6 separate regions of the Homo sapiens genome follow, and all the other regions are linked to region 5. Evidence: fine-mapped expression QTL. A gene starts in region 5. Each other region holds a variant in brackets. All regions are shown on one strand. Distances are from middle to middle. Region 1 overlaps OPN3 (opsin 3). Region 2 overlaps OPN3 (opsin 3). Region 3 overlaps WDR64 (WD repeat domain 64). Region 4 overlaps RGS7 (regulator of G protein signaling 7). Region 5 holds the start of OPN3 (opsin 3). Region 6 overlaps KMO (kynurenine 3-monooxygenase).

The links. PIP is the estimated chance that this variant, and not a neighbour inherited with it, causes the effect.
Region 1: its variant is fine-mapped to the expression of OPN3 in whole blood (INTERVAL, PIP 0.93).
Region 2: its variant is fine-mapped to the expression of OPN3 in whole blood (TOPMed, PIP 0.99).
Region 3: its variant is fine-mapped to the expression of OPN3 in esophagus mucosa (GTEx, PIP above 0.99).
Region 4: its variant is fine-mapped to the expression of OPN3 in monocytes after muramyl dipeptide (Kim-Hellmuth 2017, PIP 0.95).
Region 6: its variant is fine-mapped to the expression of OPN3 in whole blood (TOPMed, PIP above 0.99).

What each region holds. Positions count from the first base shown.
Region 1 is chr1:241,610,175-241,615,250 of GRCh38, forward strand. All of the region lies in intron 1 of OPN3 (opsin 3), which reads right to left. Among named protein-coding and RNA genes, the nearest start is that of CHML, 28 kb to the right of the region's middle. The variant T/C (reference allele first, on the strand shown) is at 2,736.
Region 2 is chr1:241,596,272-241,601,347 of GRCh38, forward strand. OPN3 (opsin 3) reads right to left here. Exons shown (of 4, transcript NM_014322.3): 3 at 1,475-1,726. Among named protein-coding and RNA genes, the nearest start is that of CHML, 42 kb to the right of the region's middle. The variant T/C (reference allele first, on the strand shown) is at 2,088.
Region 3 is chr1:241,702,452-241,707,527 of GRCh38, forward strand. The region is part of intron 8 of WDR64 (WD repeat domain 64); the gene reads left to right. The region is part of intron 1 of LOC124904603 (a long non-coding RNA gene); the gene reads right to left. Among named protein-coding and RNA genes, the nearest start is that of WDR64, 53 kb to the left of the region's middle. The variant C/T (reference allele first, on the strand shown) is at 2,617.
Region 4 is chr1:241,091,976-241,097,051 of GRCh38, forward strand. The region is part of intron 3 of RGS7 (regulator of G protein signaling 7); the gene reads right to left. Among named protein-coding and RNA genes, the nearest start is that of MIR3123, 38 kb to the right of the region's middle. The variant A/AAC (reference allele first, on the strand shown) is at 2,263.
Region 5 is chr1:241,638,261-241,643,336 of GRCh38, forward strand. OPN3 (opsin 3) reads right to left here and starts at 2,109. Exons shown (of 4, transcript NM_014322.3): 1 at 1,622-2,109. The coding sequence starts at 1,994. CHML (CHM like Rab escort protein) reads right to left here and starts at 2,109. Exons shown (of 2, transcript NM_001381853.1): 1 at 1,622-2,109. RefSeq lists enhancers at 1,236-1,806, 1,807-2,376 and silencers at 1,479-1,528, 1,859-2,438.
Region 6 is chr1:241,578,674-241,583,749 of GRCh38, forward strand. All of the region lies in intron 10 of KMO (kynurenine 3-monooxygenase), which reads left to right. Among named protein-coding and RNA genes, the nearest start is that of KMO, 49 kb to the left of the region's middle. The variant A/G (reference allele first, on the strand shown) is at 2,378.

The sequences.
Region 1 (5,076 bases), 28 kb before region 5:
ATGCCCAGGCTGCAAACTGCCCGGCATGTTCACTCAGAGCTGGCAGCTTTGATACTGCTGTTCCTTCTGCCTGAATTGCTGCCAAAGATCTCACAGTCTGGAGAAGACAGATGTGTAAACAAACAATTACAGGAATGTGATAAGAGTTAAACAAAGCTGTGTCGGGGAGCTGGAGAATGCAATGGAGGAAGTACTTATCTCTGCCTGGGGAAACACTGGGGAAGGTTTTAAGGGAAAGCAACATTTGAATTGATGAACAGGAGAATTTTATCAAGTTGACAAGAGTGAGGATATTTCAAGGCCAAGGATACAGTATGTATAAAAGCACAGAAGTGAAAATATATATTTAAATGTCTACTCTGTGCATCAGTTTGAGTCAAATAGTTCTTTCCGGTATAACTTAATGATTATACACTCATTTGCAATATTTATCAACAAACACATGTCATACACATACTGTGTGTCAGGCACTGTGCTAGACAATAAGAAAAAAAGATGAATTATAAACAGAGAAGTAAACTACTATAAAACAATGTGATAAATTCAGTAATAGAGACATATGTTTGAGGCCAAAAGTCCTGTATTCAATTCCAGTTTTCTCCATATTACCTAATGAATGTCGTCTGACTTCAGATCAATTTCATTTTTTTTCACATAATTACTCTGTGACCATGGGAAAATTAATTAACATCCCAGAATCTCAATTTGCTCACCAGTAAAACTGAGATAATAGTACCAAAATGCTGTCTCATCGTGTGGGTGTGTGGCTGTATTAAATGAGAATATACATGTTTAGTAAAGTGGTAATGCGTAAGGTATTATTATTATTACTGAATAGTTGAATATCTTGGAGCTAAATTGCTTTAAGTAGTAGAAAGTGGGTGGAAGGCATGGGAGTGGACAGGGCTCTGGAGGTTAAATATCAATACAACTCTGGAGCTTAAATATTAATACAAGGTGTGTTTATCAATATACAACTACCCAATAATACAGTTATTTTCTCACTTTGGCCACTAGATGGCCACATTGAATAGCTTATTTATAGTTCAAGTATCTAGACTGGGGTAAGCAAGTTCACACTAAACAGAAGAGCGTGCTTCAAAAAAGGCCATGACCGAGACCTGTCAATCCTTATCTGTTGTATGAAAAGGTTACTATGACGAAACCCATGCCTTCAAGGAGCACATAATCCAGAGAAGGAGGTAGAAGGAGAAACTCTGCCTATAGTGGGAGGAGGAACACCCAACTCAGGGTATTTTCTGTGGGAAGCAGGTACCACCTGAGTGAGTCTTAAAGATTAAGCACACTTTAACAAGGCCAAAAAAAAAAAAAAAAAAATGATGGGGAAGTGAAGTGACAGCCAATCCTCTTATCCTATTCCAGGAAGAGAAAACAGCTTATGTAAATACATGGAGATCTGACAGAGCTTGCACCATTTAGGTGCCTGCAAATAATTCAAAATGGTAGGACGGAGTTCTAAACAGAGAATGAAAAGACTAAGGACTCTCCTAGAAAACCCTTAAATGCCATGCGTGGAGCTTGGAATGTGTCCCGAGGGCTCTGAGGAGCCATTAAGCTGTTTTTGTTCACTTCCATTACAATACAATTCTAGAGAATTTTATTTTCTTTTGATTTTGCTTTTGGAGGTTTTCCTTATGGGAAGTTCCCTTGGGCTGCAATGAGGAAAATGGATTGTGAGCCAAGCCTGGTTCTAGGGAAACCTAGTGGAGAAATATGGTTACTGTGATAAGGAATGAAACTGATGCAGTGGCACTAGGGAAGGAGAGACGAGGAAGGTCCACCATATTTAAGGAAGTTAATCTTTGTTGGCTGTGGGAATGAATGAAGAAGAATCAAAGCAAGTCTTGGGTTACTGGTTTGTTATAATTAATAGCTGATGTTGCATTGACTTAGAAAAGAAATGGGAGAGAAGTAAATTTGGAAGTGAAGATGATTAGGGGATAACTTATGTCATCATAGATTCTCTGGATCATTTTGAACAATATCTGGATGGACTGTGTTTCAAATTCTCTACCTATAAAATGGGGCAACTGTAAATACCTGTCTTGTGGTCTTCAGAGTTGGCTGGGTGAATGAGCACACAGTAAAATCTTCCAAACTAAGTGGATGCATTTTTCTCAAATTAATGAAAATTTTGCTCACTCAAAAATATATCAATTTGTAGAAATTTAAAAAGATGCAGTTTAACTATTTTTGTTCACAGATAGTAATGGAAACAAAACTCTACGAAGATTGCTTAATAAAGATACTACTTTACTAAGTAGTGGTCTTTATGAGACCATCCCTAGAAGCTTTATAAAATTAATCAAGGAAAAAAGGACAAGGGGAATGTAAAATAAACCAAGCCTGTGGTACATTCAGCATGGATTATGAGGTCAGCTTGCTCTCTGACCTGCTTCCTCATAGCTGTTTGCCTCTTGTCCCAGAATCACGTAGACCCTGTGACAAAATTATAGTTCCCCTTAACTGCTCTATGGATAACAGCTTGAACATTATATAATGTTAAGTTTTCCATTTGAGATATTCTTTCAGGTCCTACGTACCAGTGAAACTACTGACATCAGCTTGCCTGAAGGATCCCACGAGAAGCTGACTCACCAAAGAATGCAGTTTCCACATCCTGATGATTTCATCCTCCGTAACCCAACCAATCAATGACCCCAATTCCCATCCTCTTTCTCCTCATGGTCCCCTTAAAAATCCCAACCCAGATC[T/C]CCTCAGGGAGATGAATTTTAGGGTCTCCTCCATCTCATCGCTCAGCACCCACTCAATCATGGCTGTTACCGTGCAGCGGGCATACCATCCTGTTGCTCCTATAATATCTAGTCATATGAAACAATATTAAAGAAAACCAGTACATTTAATATGCTTGAAAAAGTTTGTTCTTTTAAGCAAGTAACCAATTCTTCTTTGAAATCTTGTTTATATTGCTTATTTGTTGAGAAAGTTTCCTTCCTCCTTTTTATTTAATTAACAATAGTAATTTCAGCCCACTAACACTTATAGAGAGTACTTACTATGAGTCAGGGACTGTTCTAAGCAGTTTGCCTGTGTTATCTCACTTAATCTTCATAACAACTCTGTGAGACATGTAGGAATTATAATTACGATTCCCATTTTACAGATGAAGAAACTGAGGCAATAATGGTTTAGTCATTTGCCAAGGTCACAAGCTAAAAAATAAAAGAGCCAAGACTCGAATCACACAGTCTGCTTCCAAAGTCCATGCTGTGCTATACTTGTTTTCTAATTCTTCTTTGAGAATTATCAAAAATTTTATATTAGTGATGTAGAGTCTCTATAGAAAGCATATTTAATCCATTGTCTGCTACGTATGTTCTGTAACCATGTCTAACTTTGATATCAGAAGAAGTCATTTTTTTAAACTCAATATTCTTAAATTGAAGAATTTTAGAGAAAATGAAAGACTACCTTCATTTGAATAATATCTCTCAGCTGTTAGAATGAGTGATTTCCATTTGACCAATAAAAGCAGTTTGCTAGAACAACCAAAGTGGTAGTTGGTTTTTATTATACATGTTTTCCACATCAGGATGTGGAAACTGCATTCTATTAAATTTTCATGTTCAGTAGTCTTCATATTTCGTGCACAATGACTCAGTTTCAAAGGAAACCCAGCACAACATCAAAATTAAAACCCTTTCTGTGGGTTAAAAAATTAAGATTTCAGGTCCGGTGTGGTGGCTCATGCCTGTAATCCCAGCACTTTGGGAGGCCAAGGCAGGCAGATCACCTGAGGTCAGGAGTTTGAGACCAGCCTGGCCAACATGGTGAAACCCTGTTTCTACTAAAAATACAAAAATTAGCCAGGCTTGGTGGTGCGCACCTGTAGTCCCAGCTACTTGGGAGGCTGAAGCAGGAGAATCGCTGGAATCCATGAGGTGGAGGTTGCAGTCAGCCGAGATCATGCCAATGCACTCCAGCCTGGGCAACAGAGTGAGACTCCGTCTCAAAATTAAAAAAAAAAATTATGATTTCAGGTAATCAACTTATATAGAAATGTATTTCTGACCATTGTGTGTCATAGCTACCCAAATGCTTGCAGTGCATTTAAAACTGAGAGGCCCCTTAAGAGAGGGCCAGTGAACTACCAGAAGAGAACGATTGAATGAGGCAGGCCACATGCTGTGGTCTGTGGCTAGCTGCTCACAGTTTAAAATGCTGCACTGTTGTTTCCATTGTGCTCACTCATGCTATCCTTCACTGGTATTTCACATGCATTGCATTTTTTTTCTATTAAATTTAGTGACTTTTTAAAAAATAGGGTACACGGGGCAAATAGTTGCCATAGTTGTTAAAACATACGGACATTTTTCACCATAAGCATCTCCTCCTAGGCTACGCTGGGCACCTGTGCAGTAGCTTGGAAATCGTGCCAGGCTTACCTCCCCTCTGTTATCTTTGGTTCTTTTAATATCAGCTCCCCTTGTTCTCTGACCATTCTGGCTTCAAACTTGGCTTCTTTTCTGCCTATAGTCCCATTTGGACAGATATCCTAGCCTTAGGCTTTTCTGCCTACAGTCCCATTCGGACAGATATCCTAGCCTTAGGCTTTTCTGCCCATAGTCCCATTTGGACAGATATCCTAGCCTTAGGCTTTTCTGCCTATAGTCCCGTTTGGACAGATATCCTAGCCTTAGACTTTTTGACTTGCCTCTGATTTGACAAAGCTTTAGGCGTTTGTTTCCCCCCAGTAATTGCTTAAACTCCACAAACCATAACCAAGGAAAAGGAGAGCCCTATCTTGGAATAGGACCTCATTAGAACTTTTTCCACACTTATGCCTCTGCTCGTCAGGAAAGGATATTGAACAAGATGGTTAACAATGCAAAAAAGGATCATTATTACACTAAGAGACCCAAGAAATATCCAGTATGACCAGAGTCTATGGGCTGAGTGGGAAAAAAGTTTGAATATAAAGTAACTTCTCTGTGGAATTAATTAAGGTTCAGAAGAATAACAAACATAAGCACAGTGGGGCCAAAGTCTAAAAAAAAAAAAAAAAAAACAGTTGGATGAAAGCACTTAACAGGA
Region 2 (5,076 bases), 42 kb before region 5:
AAACCATCTCACTAGAAAAATTCATATGTGTGCATACTAAAAAATTGTTATAAACAATTTCCAGGGTTTCAGTGGCTCTTCTGAGGCCAACTCAAGGAATGTTTAGGTCCTATGGACTCCAAGTTTAAAATCTCTGGGTTAAAGGAAATAGACCAATTGAAGGCAACAAAACAGGGAAAGAAACACTGTCAGTGAGAGGAGATTAAGGCAGGTGAAAGTGAGTTTATGGAGAGTGTAAGCCAATAATACTCAAAGAGAAGGAAAGGCAAAATAAGAGGCAGAGAGATTTAGCACTGAACATAATAAGGTTATTACAAAAGTGCCCTCTTCTTCCACATTCTTGAGCATTAGAAGTCACAGTGATTATTATTGCCTGTTATTATTATGACCTGTTATCTTTAAAATTCCAATGGAGTAATTAAGCATTATCTTTAACTTTTAAATTCTCTGAAACGTAGAGGCTCAGCTTTATAATAATCATTTTGTGGGCTCTCCTAGCCATGACTCATAGCCATCAAGTCAAAACCTTTCAACTACAGAAACAGATGATAAGGAAGTTCCTCTTCTTTTTGAGACAGGGTCTCGCTCTGTCGCCCAGGCTGGAATGCACTGGTGCGATAGTGGGTCACTGCAGCCTTGACCTCCTGGGCTCAAGAGATCCTTTCATCTCAGGCCCCTGAGTAGCTGCGACTAAGGCACATGCCACCATGCCCAGCTAATTTTTTCTTTTTTTTTTTTGAGAGAGCGGGGCATCTCATTATGTTGCCCAGGTTGGTCTTGAACTCTTAGCTCAAGCAATCCTTCTGCCTCAGCATGCCCAAGTGCTGGGTTTACTGGCTTGAGCCACCACACCAGGCCCAGGAAGTTTCTTGAACCAAATTAATTTAGGCTAGACATTTGCTGTGGCATGTGAATAACAACCCAGGCCAATTGCTACAAGTATCTATAACCCCAAGTGAGGAGTTATAAGCACTGGATTTGGGGATTTGAGCAAACTAGGTTCAAATCCTGGCACCAATACTTCCTGGATTGGGCAAGTTATTTAACTTCTCTGAACTTATTCATAACCCATAAATAAAACAAGGAATAATATTAGTGCCTATTTTGTGGAGTTTTGTAAACTGGCTTGTAACTTGTTTGTGACTTGCTTGTAACTTGCTTGGTACAGTAGGAATTTTAAATGTATTATTAACATTGTAGCTGTTATTACTAGGCATAAACTATTTTCTGATGAATTAAATATTAGTTTTACTAGAATTCTACCTAACAAGTGTGAATCCCTATGGGTAGTTCTTAGAATTGTTATGATTTTCTTTGGAAATATTCTACATTTCTTCCAGATCCCTTTAATTCCTAAAAAATTCTTGTTTTTTTTTTAATTGAAGCGACTCTGAATCACCTCTGTAAAAGTATTACACTGTCATTTCCAACTCTATGCCCAGGGTGAAAACAATCAGTTAATTGCAAAGCTTACCTTTCTGATCATGAAGACATAAATCACTGGATTGTATACAGTGTTCGATTTAGCAAAGAGGTACGAAACAATAGATATTGTTGGAGTGACCAGGTGACCATGACCATTAACCACCAAGAAGCAGATCACGATATAAGGCATCCAACAGACCAGGAAGGTGAATATCATTAAAAAGCACATTTTGGCCAGTTTCTTTTCATATTTTAAAATCTTGATCACTTGAATTGTCTGAAGATCTTCCACACAACGAAGCTGCAGAAAGGAGAAAGAAAGGAAAGGGCTTAAAAAACAAAAGAAGGGTTTCTTTTGTTGTTTTTATAACAGATATTCAGACACCATTCTTGGCCCCACCTAAATGGAAAGAGAACTGAATGGCACCTTGGCAGGCTGACTTCTGATCCAAGACTCATAGCTGAGTCCAGCTTTAACCTTGCCGGGCCTCAGTCTCCCCACTTACAACATAGGGTGGTTGAGCTACAGAGCCTCCTACATCCTTCAGTGTTTTTTTTGACGTTCTCTTATTTACTTAATAAGAATAACATTATTTTGCCTAGATCTTCAAGTCTCTAAAAGACAGCCTGAGAGAGTCACGATAAAATGCAAAGAATTTCCC[T/C]GTGATCCTGGAAACTCTATAGAGTGTTAGTCCTCCAGTTCTCAAATCAGACTGCACACCCATGTCATGTCAGGTGTTCTGCATGATTAAGCCTGCAGCTGGCCTTGATGAGCACTTAATTCCCAAGTGAATTCTTACTGAAAACCAGCTTTTCAATTCACTGCTAATGACTGTAAAGTAGAATTTCAGGAGAAATTTGTTTGTGATTGGCTTCATTAGGGGATCACTTGCAGAGAACAGCACTTGGTAAAACAACTCCTTCCTCTAAAACCAGCCTGTCTACTCGCAGTCTGTTCCCATTAAAGGGATGGAGGAGTAATGATGTACAGCCTGAAAGTTCTTTGAGTTTCTTGAATATGTTTCTTTTTGCTGTTTCTCCTATTATTATATATGTGTCATAATAATACACAGGCAAAGAATATTTCTGCACACCAAAAATGTGTTCCTAAATCAAAATAGTTCTCTCTAAACATTGTAATAAGTTATATGAATTATACTACAAAAATACAAATACTCTATATATTGATTTTTTAAGTAGTTAGCATATAGTTAATACTTAGTATTGATTACTTTATGCCTGGAAATTTACTGCATTTCAATGAACTCTAAGTGTACCTTTTGGTTCTAGCATTATCATAAAAATTAAGAGAAAGAATTTCCAAAGAAATCATTTAGAACATGTGCTTAGATTATTTAGAAATATATTTTAATTAAAATTCTCAAATTACTGATATCCAAAATTATATTTAAGAAATTATATTCTTATCAAAATCATGTATTCAGATTAGCAAAGAATAGAGAGAAATAGGAAAAATTTAAATCATTGATTTTTTTAGGGTAGAGAGACTATGTGCAGGGAAAAGTGGGTATTAAATTTCTGGTATTAGTTTGGTGCAAAAGTAATTGTGGTTTTTGCCATTAAAGGTAAACCTTTGAAGGTCACCTTATTTAAAGGTAAATAATATTCCTTTACCACTATGCCAATTACTTTAAAAAATCAATATATAAAGTATTTGTATTTTTGTAGTAAAATTCATATAACTTATTACAATGTTCAGAGATAACTATTTTTATTTAGGAACATATTTTTGGTGTGCAGAAAGGTAAATAATTTACCTTTAAAAAAGGTTACCTTTAAAGGTTTACCTTTAACGGCAAAAACCGCAATTACTTTTGCACCAACCGAATACTACTATTCTGTGTGTGCAATTCTATTTTAAAAGAAACTGTTTTATTTAATGGGATAGAATATTTTTCTATTTTCAAAACATCATTTTGGGGGAGCTTCCCTAGTTTATAGGAAGGCTGTGGGGTTTTGATAAAAGGTCTAGATTTGGAATTAGAAGATCTAAGTTTATATCCCAGATTAACCACTTTTGCTCGCAGTGTGATATTGAGCAAGTCAACAACCTCCTCTAAGAGTAAACAAGAAAGGAGGTAAAGCAAAAAAACCTATGAGAATTAACAGAACTTGAGTTCCATTTCCACACGTATGACTTTGTGGGGTTGTTTTTGAGGTTAAATACTTATTTATATTTGAACTAGATATGAGACTAACACACTTGTATGTATATGTACATTTATGATACTATAGGATATCTGGAATCATTATTGACTCTTCAGAGTTTCAATTAACAAGCAACATAACCACATCTCAGTTATCTGCCTCCCAAACCTCCAGTATTTAGGTCCAATCGTTTTATCTGTACCATTTTCTGGGCAGGTCAGTCTTTATCCCCTCTCGCCATTTATCAAAGGAGAACACTCATTTATCCATCTTGGAATTACATGCATGCTGGGGAAATTAATTTAAATAAATGTTTGTCTATACATCCCCAGTTCCTCTTTGGGATAAGGAGAAGATATTGACTAATGTTTTAGATTATTTGGGTTTATATATGTGAAGTTTTCATGATTATTTTTTATTTATCTTTTTCAGGCCTCTTTCTTTCATTACTTTCTATTCCTTCATTCTGCTCATTAAATATTTTCCAAATAAAAAACTCGATTTCATGTCTTACCCTCTTTATTCAATCATTTGAGGATAGTTTTCAAAATTGCTATGGATGAAGCAATTTTGAAATGATTGGCACAGGCACAAATTTGTCCTAAAGAATGAACCAGCTAAGACAAATTCTTCAGAATTCTCTATCAGATTGTTCTCTGGCTGTATAAATGGCTGGTGCCTAGTGCTCCTTAATCCAAGACATCTGTAGATTTTCAAAGAATTTCACTGTGAATCTTCATTCTCAAGTGTGTAGCTATGTCTCCATCGTTGTTATGAGTCACCTCTCTCTGAATAAGGAAACGGAGGCAAATTACTTGCAGTGAGCTCTCTGTTTAGATAGCAGCTAAAGTCAAATCTCTTCACACTTTCACCCCTTCTCCTGTCTTCCCCTTTCTATGCCCTCTGCTTGTAACTCATTCCAAAAATAGTCACTGATTACCTACTACATGCAGACACTGTTCCAGTCACAGGTGAGAAAATACATAAGACCCAGTCTCTGCTCTTGAGGAATTCACTATTTGGTGAGGATGATGCACACTGAGCGGGTAGAAGCCATGAGGGAGGTAAACAGGGAGGATATGGTAGTACACAGGATGGGAAACTGGTTCTGAGGGTGGGTTAGAGCAAGAAAATCGTGCTGTTAGCCTTGTGAGGGAAGGAGGAATTAGTCAAGTAAGGAGGAGAGACAGAATGTTCCAGAGAAAGAAAGTGTGCTAAGACAAGAGGCAAAATAAAAAGTCAGTTTCTGAAAACAAGAAATATTACCATTGGCCGCATCATGAGGTGGCAAGAAGACAGGAGTGTCAAGAAATGAGGCTGGACAGGTAGACAGGAGATGCCATACAGGACCTGCCGGCCACACCCAGGGGCTTTATTTTGAGTCACAAAGACAGTGGAACTTCTGAAGGTAATACTTGAGAACAACTACTCTGATGGCAGTGTGTAAAGAATGGAATAGAGGAAAGCAAAAATTTTAAAAAG
Region 3 (5,076 bases), 64 kb after region 5:
CACAAAGTACTCAATAAATGTTGGCTCCTTTTCTTGTTCCCCTAAGAAAGATACTGAAAAAATTTAAAGGAAAAAAAAAAAAAGAAAGAACTTGAATACAAAGGAGAAGAGATGAAACTATCATAGATTAGTTTGTGCACTGGTTTAAGCTTCCTGTTCCTGCATCTAGAGCAGGGATTAGCAAACTGTAGCCCAAGGCCAGATCCAATGAGTCACCTGTTTTTATAACATCTGCAAACTAAGAATGGTTTTTACATTGTTCAATGACTGAAACAAAAGTTTTAAAAAAGAATAATATCTTATGACCCATAAAATTGATATGAAATTTAAATTTCACTGGTCATGAATAGAGCTGTAAGGGAATCACAGCCATACTTATTTGTGTTATCTATGATTGTTTTCATGCTACAGTGGCAGAGTTGAGTAGTTCTGACAACAGAGACTTTATGGCAAAATCTACAATATTTGTTATCTTATTCTTTATGGAAAAATTTTGCCAATGTCTGATGTAGAATTTTCTATTGCACCCTCCCTTGCCCCTTGGGAATGGGCACAATATGGATCAATAAGAGGCAGTAATACAGAGTTAGGGCCACTTTTTAAAAATGCCTTACCTGAGGCATTCTGAAATTTCTTTCCTCTTATATCATAAAGGAGAAAAGAGAAATGCCTTATTCCTTGTTTCCTGCCCTCATTCCCCACCAACTACCTCACCGTCACCGGGAGAAAATATCGAGGGACTCTGCTGACTCAGTAGCCCTGCTTCTTTAGCAATCACACAGTTCCCCTGGGATGCTTCCCGTCTGCAGCATTGCCTTCCATTCAGTGAACAACCCCTATCGTGTAACACATGCCCCCTGAAAAAAGTCACCCCTTTACCTTCTACCTGATGACTCTGCTTCTCTCCCTGCATCACGCTCATTAATTCATGGAACAACAGGAGAAAAGTCTGAGATGAAGCATGTGGTAATTCAGCCAGGGACTTTTGATAGGGGACTCTATCAAAAAGTTTTTTTTTTTTTTCTGTTTTGAAGAAACTGTCAGAAAATGTTTCTCTTTAAAATTGCTATCATTTCAGGGGGATCAGGGAAAAAGTCAGAATGAACTTCCCAGAATCAATACATTTCTATTCTGTGTGACTCCGGGAAGTGGTTATTGTTAATCAGGTATTTGTCCCTTAAGGATATTCAAACAATTATTTATTGGGAGCCTTCTATATTCAAAGAACCGTTGTGTATTAATCCATTTTCACACTGCTATAAAGATACTATCTGAGACTCAATAATTTGTAAAGGAAAGAGGTTAATTGACTCACAGTTCCACATGGCTGGGGAGGCTTCAGGAAACTTACAATCATGGCGGAAGGTGAAAGGGAAGCAAGGACCTTCTTCACATGATGGCAGGAGAGAGAAAAGTGAGCAAAAGAGGAACTTGCCAAACACTTATAAAATCATCAGATCTCATGAGAACTCACTCACTAACACAAGAACAACACGGGAGAAGCCGCCCCCATGAACCAATCACCTCCCACTAGGTTCCTTCCTCAATACTTGGGGATTACAATTCAAGATGAGATTTGGGTGGGGACACAAAGCCTAACCATATCACATGGTATCTACATTTTATCTTGTTATTAATGAACATCATGGGCCCACATTGTACACGAAACTGTGAGTCTGGTGCCACTCTGCTATGGGTGGTGTTTACAGGTGGGGCTCACTAAGGTGTCCTGGCCAAGAGGACAGTCTCCTTCCTTCCCAACCTCACCCCTGCCATCCTGAGAAGGGAGCATAGTGTGGTGGACCTGGGCTCAAGTCCAAACACCAAACTGATATCTCAATGCACTGGAAAGTATATGAAAAAACGCTCTTCACTCTTAAAGTGCTATCGAAATGCTGGTTAATATTATCATGATAGATTTCTCACAAAATGTTTGATTTTTTATGCATGCTGGTTAGAGTAAGATACTTCTAATAACAGAATGAAAAAGCAATTTTTCAAAGGATATGCAGCTGAATATGAACATGAAATACTGGAAAGCAGGCCATCTTTCATTTTCCAAATTGACATCAATTATATGAGCCTTTCTACTTGAAAGAAGTTTTATTTAAAGGCACAGTTCACTCATTTGTAATTCATTTAATTATGTGGGCTCCTATCATTATTTTTTATAGGAAAATAGAGTAATTACATCTAAAGGGCAAATATCCTTAAGAAACTGAAATTTTTAAAATGGGAAGTATGAACACAATTCCACATGCTGAGAAATTTAAGTAAAAAGGTTGTTAGATTTGCTCATAATCAGTTAATAGGGTATTAAATGGCTCTTTTCCTGCTGTCTTAGAATTTCAGCTAATGCCATTCTAAAGAGAGGTATAGTAGACCATCCTCAAGAATTACTGGAGAGGATTGCTCTAGACCCATGACCTTTACACCATCATCCCTTGCCAGCAAATGTGAATATGATACAACCAGCAATTCAAAAATAATTGAAAAGAGGGATTAAGGTACCTGGTTGTGGGCCAATGGGGGAATGCAGGGTTATTTTGTCTGCCTTCCCCAAAATGGGAGTGGCGGTTGGGGCGAGAGCTTCTGGTGCTACAAAGCAAGTGCTGA[C/T]AGGTCCAGGAAGATCTACTCCAGAAGAGCCTAAAGTGGGGAAACGCATCTAGCTCCCCAGTAGCTAGTTGCTGAGGCTCAGAACTCACAGGCTCACCTTGGGCAAGCTTGACATGTGACACATGTACGCGATGACCACTACTCGCTTCCTCATGGAGAATTTATTTTTTTTCTTTTTAGAGACAAGGTCTTGGCCGGGCGGGGTGGCTCACGCCTGTAATCCCAGCACTTTGGGAGGCCAAGGAGGGCGGATCATGAGGTCAGGAGATCGAGACCATCCCGGCTAACACGGTGAAACCCCGTCTCTACTGAAAATACAAAAAAAATAGCAGGGCATGGTGGCGGGCGCCTGTAGTCCCAGCTACTCGGGAGGCTGAGGCAGGAGAATGGCGTGAACCCGGGAGGCGGAGCTTGCAGTGAGCCGAGATCGCGCCACTGCACTCCAGCCTGGGCGATAGAGCAAGACTCTGTCTCTAAAAAAATAAATAAATAAATAATAATAATAATAATAATAATAATAATAATAATAAAAGATACAAGGTCTTAATGTTACCCCGTCACCTGGACTGGAGGGCAGGGGCATGATTATAGCTCATTGCACCTTCGAGTTCCTGGGATCAAGCAATCCTCCTGCCTCAGCCTCCTGAGTGGCTGCAGATACAGATGTGTGCCAACACGCCCGGCTAATTTTTCTTAATTTTGGTAGAGATGGGGTCTTGTTATGTTGCCCAGACTGGTCTCAGACTCTTGGCTTCAAATGATCCTCCCACCTTGGCCTCCCAAAGTGCTGAGATTACAGGTGCGAGCCACCATGCCTGGCCCTCATGGAGAATTCTGAAGGCTGCAGGCTGGGCCACAGTCTGACTTTCCCGGCCCTGGGCATTTTTGCCTTTATAGGTCCCTCCCACCATAATACTATCAATCTTACACATTATTTTTCATATACTTTTATGTCTTCAACATTTTTCTTCTGTCTTAGGAAAAATTTAGTATGTTTTCATGGGCCCTAAAAATTCTAATGTCCTATGACCCTAAGCTTTTATTTTTGCCTTCTGATTTTAAGTGCAACTAGAATATTTCCACGGGCCCCTAAAAGTACTTTGGGCTCCAGGCCTTGTGCCAGCTGTGCCTAAGGATCAGGTCGACCCTGGCTGGAGGAACCCGCCACAGAGTGGCAAGGCTGCATTCACACTGATACTGTCCAGCATCCTGTGAATTCCCTTTGGGCCACAGAAGGTAGCTTCGCTGGAGCCATCCTAATGGGAATTGGCCCAAGAAGATTTGCTGTTGGGGCGAGGTGACAAGATAAGACAGGGTAAAAGAAAATAATGCCCTTCCTGGTTTGTACTACATCCAGTTCAGTTCATTCAGCCAAGCAGCTATGGTGACAAAGTATGTCACTGGCAAACCTGTAAATGAGTCATCAGTTAGAACTTAACTACTTCTCATCTGGGACATTTAAGCATTTTCAAAAGCCTAAATACTGACTTTTGATTTATGTTACTAAATTGAGACTCCTTTTATGAACTTTGCATTTGATAGAAGGATAACTACTTACAAAGTAGATTTAAATTAGTTCAAAAAACTGTTTTAAATATTTTAGAAGTATTCTTTCACATAGAGATAATACTACCTGCTCTTCCATTTAGTAAAGCTTTCTATCTAGCAGTGAATTTGGTTATTTTGCATTATTTTTTATTAAATTTTTAAAAATCAAATTTTTTCAGGTGATTGTTCTCACTCATCAAGGTATTTTAACAAATTTTATTTAAATAATTGATTTTTAATTGTAGTGTCTATTTCAAAAAATATGAGAGCTATTCCTGCAAACTGGTAGCCTGTTAGCCAAATGCAGCTACAAAATGTGTTTGGGGGATCACTTATTTTTTTGATCTTTGCTTGTTGTGGTGAACCTGCCTTTCCTGTTGTGCATGTTGGCTGGCTCTGGGCCCGGGCTCCCCCTTTTCACAGGCATGCACTCTCAGTTCACCACAGCCCCCCTTCTCCCTGTGGTGTCATACCCAACCCCTTCTCCCAGCTAGTTTACCTGCCTGGCTGCTGCAGACTTTGAGTTTGTGACCCTCAACTGATGGACACTCTCACCTCTGTTCTTGTAGTTCACTGATGTATCTATCCCCTAGGGCAGTGTTGGGCGTACAGCTGGCACTCATAAATGTTGTTGACTCACTGACTGAGGACCCACTGAGTAAGCCCTAAAAACTCTACTTCCTTCATAGGCTTTGCTGCCCCTGGCAACTTTCCTACCTTGAGTATTTCCCTTTTGGAGTACACTTAGAGTCAACTGTCCTCTCTCCTTAACTCCCTTATGAGCCCTAGACATTCTTTGATATGAAAAACTAATTTTTTTAGCAATCTTAGACACAGCAGAACTTTTCAAACATATTACAAGCCTAAGCCTTTCCAATACAAAATTTTATAGCCAGCAACCTTCAAAGAATC
Region 4 (5,076 bases), 550 kb before region 5:
AATATTAAAAAAGCAATTATTCCGGTCATCAGGGTTTAAAGCCTATTTATTATATAATGCACCTAAAATTTATAAAGCACCCATGATTATGAATCAAAACATCTATATCCAAATAGTATTTGATATTATTATACTGTAATGTATTTTCTAGAATACAGCACACAAGAAACCACGTGCTATTTCAATATCTTGTTAAGCAAGTGAAAACCTATGTTGTCAGTTTTAATTCACTCAAATATGCCTGTAGCCAAGGTAAATGGTATAGTTTAAAATAGTACCACAAATGAAGCAACTATCTTACAAATTTAAAATTAATCATTTCCTCTTTTATTCATAAACTTTTATGCTTCATCTGGATTTGGATCTCTATTCTTCTAAAATTTAGAGTTTTAAGTACAAAGGATTTTTTAGCTGGTATGAGTGTTATAGTTTGCTTTACCAAAGATTTTCAGATGAGAGAATGAATAAACATTGTAAGTTACAGGATATGAATTCCAGGGAAAGAGCTATCATGCAAGAATAAGACTTATGGATTTCATTTACAGAAAATCTTCAGCAAAATCTACAAATATATTTTTAGCTATATAGTTATTTTTTCAATTTGAAGACATAATGGTGTTAACAGTGACTGAGCACTTTTATGAAACTCTCATGGAATAATATTTGAACTTCATCTTTTTCTATTGTGGTAGAGCACTTGTTCAAAGCCAAGATGTATATCCCCACTTGTATGGGGCAGATTCCGGGCAAAACCACTCCTTACCACAAAGCAGACACTTCTCAGATGCCTCTTCAGGATTTATTCCTTACCTGCCTTCAAAATATGATTTGAAGCAATTTACAATATAGCCCCCAACAAACTTAAAAGAACAACAATAAAAGATAGAAAAAAAAAACAATTAGAAGACAAAGAAAGGCAGATATGTCAGGGATGAATCACATGAGAAAAAGAAAGAATGGAACATTAAATTTAGCAGTGAACTTCTTGGCAACTACAGAAAAAAGGAAAAGGAAAATACAAATTATACATTATTGTTTTTAAAAAGGAAAAAGTAAAGTTTATCTTCAAAGACACAATTTTTTAGTAGTTTATTATAAAATACATTTATTTTATTGTTTTTTTCATTAGAAACTTAGAGAACATGAAGGAAATGTCTTTTAGTACAATTTCGCAGAAATCACAAAATAAGATACAAATAATCATCTATCTGCCTGCTCTAAAGGCTTTGATACTATTATACTCAAACTTCTTAAAGGTTTTTTTTTGTAGTTAAGGACAGACAATTCAAGTTCTTTGTTGAAGATGAGATTACAAAGTTATAGCCTTTAAACAGTTCTGTTCCTACACCTGACTTTTTAAACCTCTGCTAAAGGAACTTACCTTGGTTCCTCGTACAAGTTAGTTACACGTTTATTGCTAATGTATATGTAATCTATTTCCCCAGCAACGGTAAAATACTAGCCCACAAAACCCAGTATAGTTACTGGAACATAGTGAGTATTTGATCAATGTTCATTGCATTGAATTAAAAATATAAAGAAAAACGTAGTTAGCATGCATCTAAGACCAGCAGACACCAATCCCATATTTTTAAAATCAGCTTAAAAATACATATTTCTATAACCTGAGCTTAATATTTAATCTAGGGGAAAAAATAAATAAAATAAAGTAAAATAAAAACAAAAATTATAGATTCCCTGGTTCCATCTCAGCACTAATGAATTAGAATATCTGTGGTTTGCATTTGAAATCTGCATTCCTAAGACCTTCTCCAGAGAATTTATTGCAGCCATACTCCAGAGTGGCATTTCATCAATCCCAAATATTCTCCTTTTATAACATTTTTCATGTACACTCCTTTTTTTTTTGCAACCATAAATACTTTGTGTCCAATACATGTGCTATGGGGGATGACTCCTAGGTATAATTAGAAGAAATATTGAGATGGGAAAAGTTTAAGCTAGAAAAGGGAAGTCGAAGTCGAAAACATAGTGAAACAAAAGGTAGATGTTTTACTGTGGAGGATTGAAGGAGATGAAGAAACCAGAAGGAAGTTTGTGCAGACTGCTGGACTGTGCCTGAGGACTGGGGCAAGAGCTGCAAAGCTACCAGTAACCCAGTACTCTCTGCCTTATCTTCTCTGCTTCTCCTTCCTTACATGCTTCACTGTTCTCAACTGCAGACAGGCTTCCTTTGCTGCTCTCTGCACAGGGGCATTACCCAGCCCCTAGGTTACATTGCCTCAGTGCCAGACATACATA[A/AAC]ACACACACACACACACACACACACACACACACACACACAGAGTCACACACACACTTCACCAAAGTTCTGGGAATCTCAACAGAAGCCCAGGGGAGAGAGCTGTTAGTCAAATTCTATAATGTACATACACCACTGATCTCATTCCCTGGCCCTGAGACACCAGGTCACATACAACCTGTGCAGCTGCCTGAGCTATCTCTGCAGCTGAGAAGGCACTTCTGGAGAAGAAGGTAATGCTGTGACTGGATGCACTCAAGGACATTTCTCATCTCAGAGTTCAAGGAAATGGCATAGAGGAATTATCCAAAGATACTGTCCTATGGTCTTGGGACTATGGAAACCAGGAGGTTGAAATCAACAACTCTAAAACCAAAACAAAAACAAAAACAAAAACAAAGAAAAGTCTTAGATGTTTCACTGGACAAAATGCATTTAGCAGGAAAAACAAAAACAAAACACAAACCCTATTATTAGGTAGATTATATTTGTCATTGCATTCTTTGACATGATCTGGGTCTGGATTGCAGATGTTGCAGGGGGAATTGGATTATAGCATCACTTTCTCAACACAGCTGTTTTCACTTGAGGTGGATATGGGCATTACTTGGCCACCATGACCTATGTTTTCCTTTGAAGCATGGGAGTTGTCTGGTGGAGTTGGGTAGTGTTCATTCTCCCACAAAGCTGTTGACAGCTATCAATCTTAGGGGCAACAGAGACTCTCAGCTTGGGAGTAAAGGAAGGAGAAAGAACTAGATTATTCTTCCTAACTGCTTTTTCCTTCCCCAAGTAAAATTTTTTTTAAAAAGTCATTAGATAGGCTGGGGTGGCCTTGATTGAGGCCAGACTGCAGAGATGATTAGAGCCCTTCAAAGAAAAAGATTGGCACAAGCAAGGTGGCCACTGATCCCAGAGCTCTCAATAAAACAAGCATGCTCCCCGGAGCTGCCCAGCTTCTCTGGGTGCATTTTAAGGCAATATGTCTTAAACTTTAGTGCACAAATTGAGGTTCTAATTTAGTACATCTGGGGGTGGGTCCAGATACTATATTTTCTTTTAAAATTAACAAATAATAATTGTACATATTCATGGGATACATAGTGATGTTTTGATACAAATAATATATGATGGCTGGGCTCATTCCTATAATCCCAGCACTTTGGGAGGCCAAGGCAGGAAGATCACTGGAGCCCAGGAATTTGAGACTAGCCTAGGCAACATGGTGAGATCTTGTCTCTACCAAAACAAACAAACAAAAAATTAAAAATCAACCAGGCATGGTGGCAGGTGCCTGTGGTCCCAGCTACTTGGGATGCTGAGGCAGGAGGATTGCTTGAGCTCAGGAGGGTGAGGCTGCCATGTTTGCACCACTGCACTCCAGCCTGGGTGACAGAGCAAGACTGTATCAAAAAACAAAACAAAACAAGAAACAAATAATGTATGGTGATAAATAATGAAAAGTGAGAAATGATAAACATTTATCCTTTTTGAGTAATTAACATATCCATTATCTTAAATATTTATCATTTCTTTCTGTCAGGACGGCTCAATGTCCTCCTAGCTATTTGAAGCTACACAACATATTATTGTTAACTATAGTCATTCTACGGTGGCATAGAACACTGGAACTATGTGGCTGTAATTTCGCATTCTTTAACACATCTCTCCCTGTAAGTTTCCAAGTGATTCTGATACTAATGGTCCATGGAAGTAATGAGGCTTTAAGGAGCACAAATTGGTAACTTGAGAAAGTTAGATTTACAACATTTGCGATCCTTCCTTCCGTGTGGAACAGTCCATAGCAAAGATTGACTCCAGTCTGCAACAACTGCACTACCCTCCTTTCACATATGGCAGGACTTCATCACAATGGTTTCTGGTTCTACTAAGGGCAATAAAGTCAGCGGATTCCTTGTTTCATTAGAAGCTCTGCAGTAGACCATGAAACATGCTCAGGGAGAGAAGGGGGAAGCTGAAAGAGCTGGGAAAGCCAGCAGTCCGTTGCGAGTTGGGCCACAAAAGAATAGAGGAATTAACAATCCCCACAGATTATAAGAAAAATCTGGGGAGGGATACTAACTAGAAAAGACTGAAAACTTCTAGTAAAGTGAATGGAGCTTGAGAACATTATAATTTGGGAATATTAATATAAAGAAGCTGATAAGTGCTAGACATAATACTAGATATACCAACTAAATCCACGACAAAGCATCTAATTGAACCTACGAGGCAGAGCACGCCTGCAAAGTTTCCAGGGAATATAAAATGATTACTTGGACCTAATTACATTAACGTGAAAAATGTCATTGATATTCTCTTTATTGAATAGCTACCACTGTTATTTTACAGCAGTGAACATTAAAACAATTATTAGAGATTCCCAGGTTAATTCTCAATCTATATGTCCAATCTTATTTTTCAATTAAAATCTTAATGTTGTCAACCAAGAATTCTTCCAACAGCTTGCTGTTGAGATATTTGCTATCTGAAGAACTCAATCAAAAATTTTAGACTCCACTAGAGTGGGTATCACAAAATTGCAGCCAAACTTAATCAGATGAGCAAAGTTTTTTGTTTAGCCTATGTATTTTCATAATTCCTGAATTAGAATGCCTCTAAGCAGGCCATACACAGTGGAACTGACCAGTTCCCAGTGCAGGATGGCAACGTAGTGCATTTATCTGCCTGAATTCTAAAGGAGATAAGTTCACCCCTTTCATTAGCTCATCAATATATATATGAGTAACATTTTTATATGCGTGTTTAGATGTGGAGTTAACTCTGAATCCTTGACCAAATGGAGCTTAAGGTTT
Region 5 (5,076 bases):
GTGAAGAAGAAAAACAGGAAGGGAGAAGTGACCAGGAGACACAGGAGGGTGGGATCAGCAGAGGAAAGAGGTGAGGAAGAGGGTGGATGACAGCTAGCACTTATAAAGAACTCAGTACACCCTTGTGTTCAAACTCCCGGGCACGAAAACAGAATTTTCCAGCACAGAAAAGGCACTTCAAGGAAAAAAGAACTTTGATGTCTGTGAACAAACACCTGTTGACTACCCTGGAGAACACTACTGATGATACTTTAGGCTTGGGCTTGAATAACCTTCTTAGCATTGCCGAAGAAACTGCCTGATAGGTATTTTACAATTAATATAAGGAGTGTAATCCCATAGTCGTCCATACCACAGCCTACATACACTTGCAGTCCCCTCCCTAAATTTCAAATGTTTGTTCAAATGAAATTATCAGATTAAAGCTTATGAGGGGCGGGGAGGAAAATATTATAACCTCTGAAGCAATCAAATAAAATCTATTTTCTTATTTCCTTCAAAACGCCAAAAAATGAATCATTACAAATATAATATTTGGGTTTGTCATAGCATAGAGGTTACTGAATAAGAAAATATTTTTGATAATTCTACAAAGATTTTTGTTCTCCCAAACCTACCAAGATTAAAGCAATAAAGTATCAATGGATTTCAGGATTTAAAAAAGGAACTTTAAGCCTTGAGAAATACACATTTCTATTTCAAATCTCCCTACAAATGAAATTCCTGAGGCACACAAAAAAATAATTTCCTTTCTACGCTTCCTTCAATGATTTGCTGAGTTGTTGATCATCCTTCAAAACATCATGTCTCAGTGAAACTTAAATCTTCCATAATAAGAGTACTGTCGAAATACATCTTCAACAATGAAGTTCTACTTTAATGAAATCTACCGATTGCAGAGCTAATTACAGTATTTGTTCACCTGAGATGGTATTGGCTGAGCCATTTGTAATCTCACCCAAGATTCTGGTGTGCTGGAACCCATCTATAAGACGGAAAATAGTAAAAACAGCTTACAGGGCACATGCCAATTTGCATTCTGAGGACCTGAATGAAACTGTCTCATTCCCTAGAAAGCATTCAAAGGTTTACAAGTACTAATGAGAATTTTTTTTTACACATTGTTATTTTGGTTTTCTACTCTCATTTTAGGAAACAAATAGTAGTACATGAATCTAATCTCATCACTCCCTCCAACTTTCACGAGTTAATCACTTTTTTTCTTGAATCTCTTGACTCTACAGGCCCTCGTCTCTTTCCTCAAAGTGTAAAAAGCCGTGGTTTCGTGCCTTGTTGAGTGATCTTAGGAGGTAAAAACAAATAAGAAAGGAGGCGGGCCGGGGTTTGGGGTCAACGTGGGGGGCAGATGAGAGACCACAGGAATGGAGTCCTGGACAGCGTGGGGCGGGAGGGGACGGAGGAAGAGGAAGGCACCCGCCATGCGGCTGGGGTCGGGCAGCGTTGAGGAGGCGAGCGGGGAGCGGGGCGGTGTAGGGCGGGGGGCGCGGGGCCGAGCGGGAAGCGGTGCGGGGCGGGCTGGGGGGCGGACGCACGGAGCGGGCAGCGGGGTGGGGAGTGGAAGTTTGCAGAGGGGAGGCTGCCTTCTCCCAGTCCAACTCACCGAAGAGGCTGCCGCTAAACCCGTCCCACACGCAGCCCACGGTGTCCCACACCCAGCCGTTCCTCAGGCAGGACACGAAGGTAAAGGTGACCCCGAAGAGGGACACCAGCAGGTCGCTGAGGCTGATGTTGACCAGGAGGAGGTGAGTGGGAGTGCGGAGCCGCTGGAACTTGTAGTAGAGGACGAGCACCAGCAGGTTGTTGCCGACGCCCAGCAGCCCAATGGAGCCCAGCAGCAGCGCCAGGCGCTCGTAGGTGCCGGGGCTGAAGAGGGGCGCGGGGCTCAGTGTCCCCGCCGGCGCCGGCCCCTCAGCGCCCGCGGCCCCGCCGCCGTCCCAGTAGCCGTGGCCGCCGCTGCGGTTCCCCGAGTACATGGCCCGGCGCCGGCGCGCCTGGCGGGCGGAGGCGCTCAGCTTGCGGCGGGGCTCGCGGCGCGCTCCGCACTGGGTGGGGTTGGGGCTCCGCCGCCTGCTCTAGCCATTGTGCACTGAGGGGCCCGCGCTACCGCGCGCCGGGCCCGCCCTCTTCCCGCCCCTTCCGCCCGGCGCACCCCCCGTGGCCCCGCCCCTCCCCGCGGCCTGTCCTCGTCGCTCCGCTGCTCCCGGCGCGTCCTCTTAGCCCCGCCCCCCCGCGGGCGCGTCCTCGCGGCTAGCTCGCCCCGCCCCCACTGGCTGGGCACCTTCCGCTGGTCGGCGTGGACGCGCGTCGCGGGATAGCCTGGGGGCCAGGGCCGCAGGGTAGCCTCGATGGCTCTTCACACCCCCACCTCCCTGCACCCACCTTGAAAGCTTCGTGTCCACTCACCCATTCATGCACTCACTTATACATTCATTTATTCCTAAGTATTTATGAGCGCCTGCGCCCACCACGTGCTGGCAAGAATTGGGTTTCTCCCCTTCCTGGGAAGCTGTAATAACCCACAACCAGCCTACGAAGCCCATCCCGCGTCATACACTCAATGTAAACAAAAGCAAAGAAAACATTGAAGAGCTCGGGGTAGTCTTACCGGAAAACTGAGAAGAAAAACAACAAATTGATAGACAGGTGCCTGCCTAACTACCTGACTGCTAGAGGACACATGTCCCAGGGCTGATACAAGAGCCTGCCACCCTTGGAGAGTCTGGGATGAAAACTCTCTGAAAATGGCATTCCAATGGAACTGACTTTAAGCCCTGGGCTGGACCCCAAGGCCTTCCAATACCGTCCTTCCTGTGCTTGAAAGCGTGGGTAGATCTTTCCGGTCACTGAGGCCTGCTAAAGTCCTTCACAGGCAGTGAAAGATTCAACCTAAATCTAGCAGGTATAGGAGGCAGGTGCTATATTTAGAACAGCACACATTTCCCATTGGGCCTCTTCTCCTGTAGTGATGAGAATATAGTACAAGTCAAATATAGGTTGTGAACGTCATCACACTCTGCAAGAGCTGCTTCTGCCTTTGTGGTTGCACAATCCCTAAGGAGGCCCTACAAGAAGATCACAGTCCCCAGCCACACCTGCAGCCTGTCCTGGACACTGGTGACGAACACAGGGTTTGTGCAAGCTAAAGAAACTGCTCTCCATACGGGCGTGCCTCACCTCTGTTTGAAAGATCAGTAGGGAATGACTAGCTTGGATCAATCCACATTCTGAATTCCCTGGAGAGAGGATCTAATAGGCTGGCAGCAGCTCTCCACCCTGGTGCACTGAGCAATAGCTAAGGGGCAGTGTGCTCTGCCTTTGACACCTTGATTTTCCTTCAAGGCTTCTGCTCTGGACTCGCCATCTGTGAGACTTCCTACCCACCCACCCCTTAAAAAACACACACACACTTTTAATTGTTAATTTTAGATTTGTACAACCACTGAACAAAACATAACTATTTAACAAGTTCTATATGTTTAATGTCGAAAGTGTTTTCTGTGTCTAGTCTACAGTAAGTTCTCAATAAATAGTAATTTGAATGAATGAATAAAGAACTCGCTATATTTTTTCCTATTCATTCTTCATTGCTGAGTCATTGCCCTTATAAAGCTCACATTCCAGTCGTGTTGGGAGAACAAACAAAAATTAGATAAATACGTAGGGTGTCAGCCACTGACAAATGCCATGAAGAAATAGGGGTCAGGCGTGGTGGCTCATTCCTGTAACCCCAGCACTTTGGGAGGCCGAGGCAGTAGGATTTCTTAAGCCCAGGAGTTCAAGACCAGCCTGGGCAACAAAGTGAGAACTGCCCCCTAACTCTTCAAAAAATAGAAAATTAGCCAGGCAAGATGGTACATGTCTGTGGTCCCAGCTACTCAGGAGGTTGAGCCAGGAGCTATGGGAGATGGGGCAAGGAGTTTGTAAGAGTTAAAGAAAGAGGAAAGAAACACTAATAGCAGCTCAACAGTCAGACAGTGTTATTTGGAAGAATAAACCTAAGAGGGGCTTCTGGCCGATTTCGGTCAGGAGCACTCTCTTACAGACTAAGAGTATTTAAGGATTTTAGAGTGAGAGAGCTTATCACAGGCGTGGAATGTTTCTGTTTGGAGAAGAAGTTTATTGCCAAGTTGGAATGTCTCTGTCGGAGGGGAGGTTATCTCGGGGCTCGCATGTCTCTGGTCAGGGAGGGGTTTATCTTAGGGTTGGAATGTTTCTGGTCGGAGATGTCATTTGTGGTGTATGGTCATGCTGACCTTAGCCATTAGGCTGATGCTGTTTGGATTTAGGTGGTTTTTGATCAAGGGGAACTTTAAAATGGCAGTGCTTGTCCATGATGGTGATGCACCTGCTCTGTCAAGGTTGTTATTTAGACAAGGTGGTTATGGGCAGGAGTACTGTATTGGTATGTTGGAGGAACAATAAGGAAGCAAGAATGAGAATCGGGAAATGCAGCCAGTCAGGTGGGTGTGCAGTGAATGGCCAGAATATGCAGGACCTTGGCCATTTCAATAAAAGGACTTTGGCTTTTACTCAATCAGAGTAAAGTCCAGGGCAATGCCTACTAGCAGTGAATGCAAAGGAGGAGTAAGAGGCCTTTGACAAATGCTTAAGCATTTTTGACACAGTAATTTTACAATACTATGAACCATTAAGGACATTTATTGAGCTTGACAGAAACAGGCAATGATAAGGATATATGTTTCTTTTTTAATTTTAGAATTATGTAATGACAGGATAATGGCAGAACACTACAATCTTTTATTAAAAAAAAAAACAAAAAACAAACAAATGAAAAACACCAGCATGATATAGTTTGGATGTTTGTCCCCACCCAAATCTCATGTTGAAATATAATCCCCAATATTAGAGGTGGGTCCTAGTGGTAGGTGTTTTGGTCATAGGGGGCGGATCCCTCATGAATGGCCTGGGCCATCCCCTTTGTGATAAGTGAGCTCTGGTCATCTAAAAGTGTGTGGCAACTCCGCCATCCCACTCTCTCTCTCTCTCTCTCCCTATCTGGTTGTCGCCATGTGAGATGCCTGCTCTCACTTTGCC
Region 6 (5,076 bases), 60 kb before region 5:
TAGGAGTAATTAACTGGTTATGTGGACAGACTTAGAACTTCCTGGTTAGCCAGGGTGGTGTAGGTAATGGTGTGTATTAATCTGTTTTCATGCTGCTGATAAAGACATACCCAAGATTGGGTAATTTATAAAGAAAGAGAGGTTTGATGGATGCACAGTTTCATGTGGCTAGGGAGGCCTCACAATTATGGTGGAAGGTGAAAGGCCCTTCTCACATGGTAGCAGACAAGAGAAGAGTGAGAGCCAAGTGAAAGGGTTTTCCCTTATAAAACCATCAGATCTCATGAGACTTATTCACTACCACGAGAATTGTATGAGGGAAATTGCCCCCATGATTCAATTATGTCCCACCAGGTCCCTCCCACAACACATGGGAATTATGGGAGATACAATTCAAGATGAGATTTGGGTGGGGACACAGCCAAACCATATCACAGTGATAGCTGAGGTCATACACAAATTTTCTCCTTCCTGAGTGCAGGTTATTCTACCTGCAGATGCTGTCTGTAATGGACTGTGTCAGTTGGCTTCTGCCAGGTGGTTGTACTTGCAAAAGAGCACCAGGTTTGGTGGTAGCAGTGGGATTTCTGCTTGCCTTATGTTACCTAGGGGAGGTACTCTGGTTTCTTACGTGATGGGCAGGGTTATAAAGCTCCCAAAAGTTTCTGTCTTTTGTGTTAAGCTACCAGGGTAGGTGGAGGGGTGAAGCCAGGTCAGAGTTGTGCTGGGCAGGTCCATGCAAGCAGCATTCCCTGTGGGGGCCAGGAGACAGTTTTCTGGCCACTAAGGTAACGCTTCAGGGATGAGGACAACTGCCTCTGCTTCACTGAAGAGTTTGCCCAGCAATTAGGGAGTAGCAGGCGGCAGTAAGCTCCACCCAGCTTCCATGCACTTGGCAAGGCAGGTCTTACACCCACAGTGTTCTGCTAGCAACAGCTAGCTAAGCTCCAGGAAGTCTACACTCAAAACTGTCCTAGGCCATAAGCCTTCTCCTCAGAGACAGCAACTGGTGACTTTCAGGCCACTCCCCTCCCAGTCCACCCACAAATCCAGGGCACCCAGCTTCTGCACTCGTGGCTGTAGCACACTTCCCATTCACCTCCCAGTTCTGGCCAAGAGAGTTCAACCCTGCTCGAGATTATATCACAGATTTTAGTTGGGAGCTTCTCTCAACCTGTGACTGCTGCCTGAGTTAGCTTGCAGACTTCCATGAGGTTCCCAGTAATGTAGAATCAGGAATAACCTCCCTTGGTTTGTACTGGAGACCGGGAATGTCCAAAAGTCTCTTCCAGCTGCTGCTCCTGCTTTTATATTTCCCACTGCTCACTAAATCAGTTCCAGTGCTTGGTAGGGTTAACGCCTTCCCCCATGGACTGGATTGCCAGGTTCCCCAGTGGGGATTTATATCCTGGAGGCAGGCTCTCACCCTCTCACACTTTGAGGACTTAACAATTTTTCACATGGCTTATAGTATAGGTTGCAGCAGCCTATCTCTTCTTTTAAAGGGTCTTATGGTTTCCTTCCGTTTTCCTGTTAAGTTCCTGTGTTGCCTCCTGGAAAAAAGTTCACAGTGTGTATCTCTACATAGTCTCTACATATATCTCTACATATCTCTACACCACATTTTATCTTCCCAAGTGGGAGAGGCATGCTAACATTGCCTCCAATTCACTGTCTTAGGGGGAAAGATTTTTTCTTTCTTCAACTAATTTTGGATTCAGTTTGCTCTTGCTTTTATAGCTCTTTAGGATACAATTGTTAGGTTGTTTATTTGAAGTTTTTCTACTTTTTTGATGTAGGTATTTATTGCTATACACTTCAACTTTAGTACTGCTTTGGCTGTGTCCCACAGGTTTTGGTATGTTCTGTTTCCATTTTCATTTGTTTCAAGAAATCTTTAAATTCCCTTATTGGTCAATTTCTTCATTGACCCAGTGGTCATTCAGGAGCATATTGTTTAATTTCCATGTGTTTGTATAATTTACAAAGTTTCTCTTGTTATTTATTTCTAGTTTCATCTCACTGTGGTCAGAAAAGATACTTGATGTGATTTCAATTTTTAAAAATTTTTTGAGATTTTTTTTGTGACCTAACATACAACCTATCTTTGAGGATGTTTCATGTGCTAAGGAAAAGAACATGTATTCTGCCTTTTTTGGATAATATGTTCTGTAAATACATATTAGGTCCATTTCTTACATACTTTTTCTTTATTTTATGTCTTGATGATCTGTCCAAAGGTGAAACTGGGGTGTTAAGTACCCAGCTATTATTGTATTGGGGTCTATCACTGTCTTTAGTTCTAATAATATTTGCTTTCTATATCTGGGTGCTCCTGTGTTGGATGCATAGATATTTACTATTATATTCTCTTACC[A/G]AATTGACCTTTTTGTCATTATATAATGAACTCATTTGTTTGTCTTTAGAGTTTTTGTCTTGAAATCCATTTTGTCTCATATAAGTATAGCAACTCCTGCTCTTTTATGATTTCCATTTGCTTGGAATATCTTTTTCCATCCTTTTATTTTCAGTCGATGTGTGTCTTTATAGGTGATGTGAATTTCTTGTAGGCAGCATATAGTTGAGTCTTATCTTTTTATACATCCAACTGCTCTATGTATTTTTATTAGGGAATTTATTCCATTTAGTTTCAGTATTACTAATGATAGGTATGGACTTACTGCTGCCATACAGTTACTTCTTTTCTGGTTGTTTTGTTGGTCCTCTTCTTCTTTCTTCCTTCTTGTTTTCCTTTGTGTAAAAGTGATATTCTCTGGTAGTATGTTTTAAGTTTTTGCTTATTATTTTTTGTGTACCTATCATAGGTTTTTGTTTTGTGGTTACCATGAGGCTTGCAAATAACATCTTACAACCAAGTATTTTAAACTGATGACAACTTAACCCGGATTACAAAGAAAAAGAAAGAAAGAAGAAAAAAAGAGAAAAGAAAAGAAAAGACAAACAAGCAAAGAGAAAACTAAACAACTCTACACTTTAACTCCATCCCCCTGGCATTTTGACATTTTGTTGTCTCTATATATATCTTTTTATACTGTCTCTAAAAAGTTCTTGTAATTATTATTTTTGATAAATGTGTCTTTTGGTCCTTCTACTAAAGATATGTACATACTGCAGTTACAGTGTTAATAGTATACTGTATTTGTCTGTATACTTACTATTACCAGTGAATTAGATACCTTCAGGTGATTTTTTTTCTCATTTGTTAACATCCTTTTCTTTCATATTGAAGATCTCCCTTGAGTATTTCTTGTAAGACGGATCTGGTGTTGATGAAATCTCTCAGGTTTTGTTTGTCTGTGAACATATTTCTCCTTCATGTTTGTAGAATAATTTTGCTGCATACAATATTCTAAATTGGAAGCTTTTATTCCTTTAGCACTTTGAATATGCCAATCCATTCTCTTTTGTCCTAAAGGTTTCTGCTGCAAAGTCTGCTGCCAGACATATTGGAGCTCCTTTTATGTTATTTGCTTATTTTTACTTGTTGCTTTCAGGATCCTTTCTTTATCCTTGACCTTTGAGAGTTCCATTAATATATGCTTTGATGTAGCCTTATTTGGCTTGAATCTGTTTAGTGTTTTATGATCTTCTTGTAGCTGGATATTCATATCTTTCTCTAGGTTTGGGAAGTTTTCATTATTATTTCTTTGAATAAACTTTCTACCCTTATGTCTCTCTCTATATATGTTCTCTTTAAGGCCAACAACTATTAGATTTGCCCTTGTCAGGCTATTTCCTGGATCTTATATGTATGCTTAATTCTTTTTTATTCTTATTGTTTCCCTCTGACTGTATTTTTATATAGCCTGTCTTCCAGCTCACTAATTTTTTCTTCTGTTTGATCAATTCTGCTGTTGAGAGACTCTGATGCATTTTTCAATTGAATTTTTCAGCTCCAAAATGTCTGCTTGATTTTTAAAAATTATTTCAATCTCTTTGTTAAATTTATCTGATACAATTCTGAATTCCTTCTCTGTATTATCTTGATGTTTGTTGAACTTCTGCAAGACGAGTATTTTGAATTCTCTATTTGAAAGGTCATATATCTTTGTCACTCCAGGATTGGTCACTGGTGCCTTATTTAGTTCGTTTGGTAAGGTCATGTTCCTTGGGTGTTCTTGATGCTTGTGGATGTTTGTTGATATCTGGGTGTTGAAGAATTAGGTGTCTATTTTGTCTATTTTGTCTTCACATTCTTGGCTTGTTTGTACCTGTCCTTCTTGAAATAGCTTTCCAGGTATTCCAAGGGGAATGAGTGTTGCGGTCTAAGTTTATGGTCACTGCAGCTGTATCAGTACTAGGAGGTGCCCTAAGCCCAGGAATGCTACAACTCTTGCCAAGTCCTAGAGGCACAATGGTGCTTCTAAATGAAGCATTGTCCTAAAGGGAGAATTCCTTGGGTTACTAGGCAAAGTATCTCAGTCTCTTCTCTTTTGTTCCTTGAACCACAAGGAGTTTTTCTCCCCATGCTAGGCTGCCTGGAGTTGGGGGAGGAGTGACACAAGCACTCCTGTGGCCACCACAGCTGGCACTGTGCTGGGTCATACCTGAAGCTAACACAGTACTGTGTCTTGCCTAATGCCCATGGTGACTACTGCCTGGCTACCACTGATGTTTATTCAAGGCCCAAGGGCTCTTTAGTTAGCAGGTGGTGAACCCTGCCAGGACTCAGTCATTGCCTTCAAGGCAGAAAATTCCCTTCTGCCCCAGGGTGGGTATAGAAATGCCATCCAGGAGCTAAGACCTGGAATCAGGGGCTTCAGGAAACTACTTGGTGCTTTATTTTATTGTGGCTTAGCTGGTACCTAACTAACTAGTAAGACAAAGACCTCTATACTTTTTCTTCTCCTTTCCCCAAGTGAAGGGAGTTTTTCCCCAAGCTGCACTGCCTGGAGTTGAAGAAGAGGGTCTCAGGTACTTAAAATCATCTATAGATTACTTATAATACATATACCTAATACAATATAAATGTCATGTATATAATTGTTATACTGTATTTTTATTTGTATTCTTTTTTGTTGCATTATTTTTATTGTTTTTTAAAAAATACTTCCA